Linked DNA regions of Homo sapiens. The protein of the gene in region 1 interacts with the protein of each later gene in a pairwise test. Each region holds a gene or a part of one and is shown on either strand. Other genes may lie near its edges.

Region 1 (3,751 bases):
TAACAGCATCTGCCTGTGGCTCCTCAGCTTCCAAGTGCGGAGGTTGCAGTAAGCCAAAATTGTGCCACTGCACTCCAGCCTGGGCAAAAGAGCAAGACTTGGTCTTTAAAAAAAAAAAAAAAAAAAAAAATCCAGCAGAATTACTTAAACACAGTGTTTACGTATAAAGGAAGCAAAAGGCCTGGCGTGGTGGCTCATGCCTGTAATCCCAGCATTTTGGGAGGCCAAGGCGGGAGGATCATGAGGTCAGGAGATCAGGAGATTGAGACCATCCTGGGAAACATAGTGAAACACTCTCTACTAAAAAAAAAAAAAAAAAATACAAAAATTAGCTGGGCGTGGTAGCTTGTGCCTGTAATCCCAGCTACTTGGGAGGTTGAGGCAGGAGAATCGCTTGAACCCGAGAGGCAGAGGTTGCAGTGAGCTGAGATCGTGTCACTGCACTCCAGCCTGGCGAGAAAGCTAGACTCCGTCTCAAAAAAAAAAGTAAATAAATAATAAATAAATAAATAAATAAATAAATAAAGGAAGGAAGCAAGAAAATTTTAAGCCATTTAACAAGAAAACCCACTATTGCTTTCAGAAAATGAGAATGTTGGGCCGGTAATAGTAGCTCATGCCTGGAATCCTAGCACTTTGGGATGCTGAGGGTGGAGGATCGCTTGAGCCCAGGAGTTCAAGATCAGCCTGAGCAACACAGCCAGACCCCATCTGTTAAAAAAAAAAAAAAGAAAATAATAATGTCAGTTAATTATTTCCATGGCAATAAATAGTTTACAAAAGTATTACTTCTATCTGAATGCTTCTAGATGTTGCAAGTTTAAGTCCTGGAATACCATCTGAAACATCAAACTAAAAGAACAGACCTGAGAAACATATTCCATGTGCTCAGGGAAAGAACAAAGAATTTTTAACAAATGTAATATTGGGATGTTTTTTGTTTTCTGAGATTCATTTCTTTTTTGCCCTTTGGAAATATTTTGTACTGTCTCTCAAGTTCTTCTGATAACATATATTTTATATTTATTGGAAAAATGACATTCGAGTGAATAAATCTTTTCAAGGTCATAAACCCAAGGCGGGACAGTGCCAATCTGAAACTGTGCTGAAAAGATAGATTACCCAGGAAAGTTTACAAAAAGGAACCTCAACGCAAAGGAGTTCCCATAGGATGTCTGTGCCCTGGAAAGGTACCAGGATGAGGGCCACAGCATTTTATGCAGATTAGTTCCAAGTGAATAATTTTTCTGATTTTTCTCTGATGTAAAATATCCACAAACAAGAAATAAATCGTTTAAAAGAGGCATCTATTGGAAAAAAGATTATTAAAATACTGCGTGTGTTTGAAATGCACCACACAGGACAAAGAGTTGGTGACGATGTTTTCCACTGGCGAGCGGAAGTAGGCGTTTGGGAATTCGGGGAGGGATCCGGAAATCTAGGGATTAATGGCCCGCCGTGGGAGGAGCTAGGCTGGGGGGACAGGGTAGTGGATTTGAGACTCTGCTTCCAACATCTTTGGAAGACTCAGGGGGAAACAGCCTTTGGGAAGAAAGAAGGGACTGGGAACCCCAGACTGTAGCTCCTCCCACACAAACCAAACACACAAGGCGGGATTCTCCCCAGGACCCTCCCGTGGTCCCTGCACGATCTGGGAAAGACGCGGGGCTGCGGGCGCGGAGTTGTCCAGAGAGGGCTCCGGGGCTGGGACCGCAGTCGCCGCGCAGGGACGGGACAGGACGCTTGGAGTTCCAGCTGCCAGCCCAGCCCCACACTGCGGCCGGAGGTGACCGTGGGGAGGCCCGGGTCCCGCGATCACGGCCGGTTCCAACTAGTCCGGCCCTGCACACTCACCATTTTCCGGCCTCGCGGGTGTCCCGGTGTTGTCCCTAAGGTTCACGGAGCCAGCGCAGGGTACAGCGCATCCGATGCAGGGGTACAGCAACCTGACGCGTCAAGGGGCCAGGAGACCCCAAGCTAAGCACAACCCGATCGCACAGTGACGTAGCACGCATTTGCGCAGCGTAGCCGTACCCTCCTTTCCGGCGCCGCCCCTGATTGGACAATTATACAGCCCCGCCCCTTTTTGTCCGAATGACAGCTAGGCAGCAGGTCTAGTAGCTAGGCAGATCTCGCTTCCGCCGGTGGGACGGAACTGGTGCCCTCCGTGGACAATTGTGTTGAAGCAGAAATTGTTCCGGATCTCGGGTCGGACACGGAAGTCTTCCTGCAGTGTTTCTGGATGCGGGGACAGGGATGCGCAGGAATTCCAGTCTCAGTTTCCAGATGGAGCGACCCCTCGAGGAGCAAGTCCAGAGCAAGTGGTCGTCTAGTCAAGGCCGCACAGGAACAGGAGGGTCTGATGTCCTCCAGGTACCAGGGGCTTGGCATAATGTTGTAAGGCCTCTCGTGGAATAGTGACCCTTGTTTATAAACAGACGGTTACCCCATCATGTGTAATAAAAAGTGTGGTTGCATTTTAATCTTTGACCATAACAGCGTTGAGGCGTCCACCTTTCTTTTCCCCACCTCCACACATTTGGCACTTTAGAAAAGGAACCCCAAGGCAGGGCTTGGTGGCGCACACCCGTAGTCCCAGCTACTGCGTGGTGGGGGCGGTGGGGGAGGTCGGGGGGTGGGTGGGCTGAGGCGGGTGGATCGCTTGACTCCAGGAGTTTGAGTTCAGTCTGGGCAACATGGCCAGAACCCATCCCAAGAAAAAAAAAAAAAGGAAAGAAAGAAAAAACAATCCGTAGGACACCCGAGCACTTGGCTCGGGTGGTAAATTGCAACCCTAACCTGGGCACAGGGACTCTTCAGACCAATCACGATCTATGAGACGTGCTCAGTAAACTGCGTTTTACTCTGGAAGGAAATGGTTTGTTTTCGTTGTTTTTTTGTTTGTTTGTTTTTAGTTTAAGCATGTTTTTATTGCTTTTCATTTTTATTTTTATTTTTGTAGATTTATGGTTACAAATGCACTTGTGTTACGTGGATATATTTCATAGTGGCGAAGTCTGGCTTTTAGTGCACCCATCACCCAAAGAGTGTATATTGTACCCAATAGGTAATATTTCATCCCTCATCCCCCCTCTCTGTCCAACCTATTGGCATCTCCAGTGTCTATTATTCCATTCTGTATGTCCATGTTTACCCATTGTTTAGCTCCCACTTATATGTAAGAAGATGCAGTTTTTGACTTTCTGTTTTTGCATCATCGCACTTAGGATAATGGCCTCCAGTTCCATCCGTGTTGCTGTAAAGTGGAAGGAAATTTATCTCAAATAAGTTTTCTAAAGTGTCCCTACAGAACTTGGAAAGACCAAGAGCCCAAAACCAGCCTGGGCAACATAGCGAGACCCCATTTCTCAAAAAATTTTTAAAAATTAGCTGGGTATGGTGTTCACCTGTAGTCCTAGCTCCTTCGGAGGCTGAGGCAGAAGGATCTCAAGGCTAAGAGTTTGAGGTTACAGTGAGCCAAGATTGTGCCACTGCATTCCAGCCTGGGAGAGAGAGAGACTGTCTCTAAATTTTTTTTTTAAAGTAGAAACATATTTCATTTTTCCCATTATAGAGGAGACAGTGTAATCTTGAAAACTCCCATGATCCACCCTTCTGGTAGCTCTGTGTGTACAGGTAGATGCAGGGGGAACAATGCTTCCAAGGCTGTCAAAGGTCATGTTTAGTTCTAAATTGCTGAAACTCACAAAATGCATCCTCTTGTTTCTAATTAGATGCAGAACAGTGAACA
Region 2 (3,751 bases), on another chromosome or scaffold:
CCAAGCTTTTCACCTGACACACAACCAGTCAGGTGAAGAGCTTGGATTCAAACCCAGGTTTCCATTAAATCACACCATCTACAGACAGAGGAGCAGTTCACTAAAATAATGCTTACATTCCCATGTGCTACCCAAAGGGAAATAGCCAGGATTCTGTATGACCAATAAATCATCATGAGAAATTATTTCAACCAGAAGCTGGAATGTGAAACACCAAGTTGAACTGTCAGAAGACTGGAAAACACTTAGTGCAAATACAGATAAGAACACATGCTTTCAAGCTGGCACTTGCCCTTCGAACACACAACACAAAGTGGTCTCAACACAAACTGGCTCAGTGTCAAAGTAGGAATTTTGCAACACACCCTACAGTTAACAGTCACTTTTCCCCTCAACACCTAGACTCTTTCTTAACAAAATCAGGATTTGGGGAGAAAGGAAAGTTGACAATAAACTGTCATTTTATAAATGGTGAAACTAAAGCTTAGAGAAGTAAAGCAATTAGTCATAGTCCATTATGAATGTCTTTGCTGGATACCCTTTCCTCTATGCCAAGGGAAGCAGTTAAAAAAAATAAAAAAGATGTTTGTCTAAGGCTTATATGGGAGGTGTATCCCTGTGCATTACTTAGAAAAGTCCCCCAATAATTTTTTTTTTTTTTTTTTTTTAGAGACAGGTTCTTGCTATGTTGCCCAGACTGGTCTTGAACTCCTGGGCTCATGCAATCTGCCACCTCACTTGGCTTGTTTATTAACCTTTTATGGATCATGGGCATATCTACTGAATCTACTGAAACCTGTGAATTCTCTTCCCAGAAGTGATTCCATAAGGGCAGGAACATAACTTTGCCTATAATTTTAGCTCTTCCATGCAGCCCTTGGCAATTCCTGAGCCACAGCAGTGAAAGAAAGCTTGCCTTAAAGTGTTACAGTGATATGAAATGATTCAAATCAGCTTTGCAGACACTGCCCGAACCTGAAAACTTTCTATAGGAGGAGGCTGTATGCATAACAAGTGAAAAATAATTACGATGCTGTTTTTTAGTATTTGAATCAATGCATGAAGTTATTATTTTTCAGCATGTACACACAGATTAAATAAAATGTATTTACAACACAATAGTATAGCCAGATGATATTCAACATCTATATTTCCAAACTGTTCTACCAAATGGTTCTAACTAATGGGTCCCAGCACTACAGATATCCTAAAGACACATTATAAGAATCACCAGCCCCTGTCTGCCTTCATCAGAGCCTCTCACATCCTGTCCCAACATCATGTTCAGTTAATGCGAATTCTTGCTTTAAGAAGGCACAGAAAACATTTACACTATTTATTGTAATTTAAACATCTGCAATTTACCATGATATCTCTTCCCACCTACAGGAAAGATATTGCATTAATATTGCAGCATTGAGTTTCTAATAATACAATTTGCATTGGAAGAATATGACTACCCCAAAACTTGCCTGCTAAGCGTCCATAAATGCTTCCTTTAACTCAGAGGACCTGGAGTTCTGCTAGAAAATTGAATCTGTGTTCAGCAGGCTTTCCTTCCTAGTGACCTCTGCATGCCCCACAGGCTACCCCTGCCTATTTTACACCAGAGTTCTGCAAGTGGGGCACCAAAGCTGGATGGTAACATGAGCTGGCTGCAGCCACAAATAGCAACAGGCCTGCCATGAGTGAAGGTCCAAATATAGACCTGCTGTGGCTGAGTTGCCACTTCTTACTACTCAAGTGTCACCAGGAGAGGTCACATGCCGTGCTCTGAGTTACTTTCTGTGCTGTGAGGGGTTTTAGACTTGTGGCTCTACCATGGGTCTCAGATGGCTGGTCATGTGGAGAGGGCTGGGGACTGTCACGGCAAGACCAGGAAGAAGATTCCTTTTTTTTTTTTTTAAGTGAATGAGTTTCTAAAATTATATGCAAAATTATGTCTGTGTCCTTATAGAATCACTTCCGGGAAGAGAACTCACAGGTTTCAATAGATTCTCAGAGGTGCTCATGAACCATACAAGGTTAAAAAACATTTTGGGGGCACTTTTCTAATCAAAGCACAGGACACACTTCCCATATAAGCCTTAAGCAAACATTATTATTTTTTTTTTTTACTTGCCATGGTATGGCATAGAAATGGGACTATCCAGCCAATACATTCCTTATGGACTATGATTGACTATTTCTCTAAGCTTTAGTTTAATAATTTATAAAATGACAATTTAGTGTTAATGTTCTTTTCTTCCAAAATTCTGACTCTGTTAAGAAGTTGAAAGAGTCTAGGTGTTGAGGAAAAAAGTGAGTGTTAACTGTGGGTGTGTTGCAAAATTCCTACTTTGATGCTGAGCCCACAGACCAGCATAACAGTATAATCTCTCTCTCCTCTCTCTCTCTCACATGCACGCACGCACACACACACACACACACACACAGTGTAATAGTCAGAGTTGTCCAGAGAAACAGAACCAATAGAATGTATACATATATGGAAACAGATTTATCATAAGGAATTGACTCATGTAATTATGAAGACCAAAAAGTCCCAAGATCTGCAGTTAGTAAGCGGAAGATCCAGGAGAGCCAATGGTGTGGTTCTAGTCCAAAGGCCAGCAGGCTCAAGACCCTGGAGAGCCAATGTTTCCATTTGAGTTGGAAGGCAGGAAAAAAACCCATATTCCCACTTGAAGGCAGTTAGGCAGGAAGAATTCCCTCTTATTCAAGCTTTTGTTCTATTCAGACCTTCAATCGATTGGATGAGGCCCACTCACATGAGGGAGGGCAACCAGTTTTACTCAGTCTACTAACTCAAAGGTTAATCTCATCCAGAAACACCATCACACACACACACCCAGAATAATGTCTGACTAAACACCTGGTGACCCAATCAAGTTGACACATTAAAATTAACCATCATACATATATATACATATGCTATAGACAGTTTATATTCCCCTAAAATTCCCATGTTGAAACCAAATCCCCAATGTGATGGTATTTGGAAATGTGGCCTTTGGGAGGTGATTAGGTCATGAAGGCAAGCCCTCATGAATAAAATTAGTGCCATTACATTGGGGGTCCCAGAGAGCTCTTCCATGTGAAGATGCAGTAAGAATACAGGTATCTACGAACCAAGAAGCAGCCCTTCCTTACCAGACACTGAATCTGCTGGTGCTTTAATCTTGGACTTTCCAGCCTCCAGAACCATGAGAAATAAATGTTTGTTGTTTACAAGCCACCCACTCAATGGTATTCTGTTATAGCAGCCTGAATGGACTAAGACATATATTAATATATAGAGAGAGGATAATTTTATTTTTTCTTTTCTTTTTTTTTTGAGGCAGAGTCTCACTGTTTCGCCCAGGCTGGAATGCTGTGGTGCAATCTCGGCTCACTGTAACCTCTGCCTCCTGGATTCAAGCAATTCTGATGCCTCAGCCTCCTGAGTAGTTGGGATTATAGGGCATGCACCACCACGCCCGGCTAACTTTTCTTTTTCTCTCTCTTTTTTTTTTTTTTTTTGGTATTTTTAGTAGAGACGGGGTTTGGCCATTTTGGCCAGGCTGGTCTCGAACTCCTGACTTCAACTGATCCGCCCACCTCGGCCTCCAAAAGTGCTGGGATTACAGGTGTTAGTCACTGCACCCAGCCACCCACGACAATTTTATAATTAGAAAGATTGACAGTTTCCGCTTGAAAAACCAAATAGATAAGAAAACTAACAGAAATAACACAGTATAAAGCAGATAGT

What was found.
Region 2: the proteins of ZNF490 (region 1) and FSD2 interact in binary tests that used the Homo sapiens proteins (3 or more experiments, as listed by UniProt).

What each region holds. Positions count from the first base shown.
Region 1 is NC_000019.10:12,609,186-12,612,936, reverse strand, and holds the start of ZNF490 (zinc finger protein 490), read left to right. Parts: upstream 1-2,123; 5' UTR 2,124-2,256; coding exon 2,257-2,373; intron 2,374-3,734; coding exon 3,735-3,751. Other genes in the region: ZNF791 (zinc finger protein 791), read right to left, coding at 1,855-1,857. UniProt on the Homo sapiens protein: May be involved in transcriptional regulation.
Region 2 is NC_000015.10:82,804,494-82,808,244, forward strand, and holds the start of FSD2 (fibronectin type III and SPRY domain-containing protein 2), read right to left. Parts: upstream 1,577-3,751; 5' UTR 1,473-1,576; intron 1-1,472.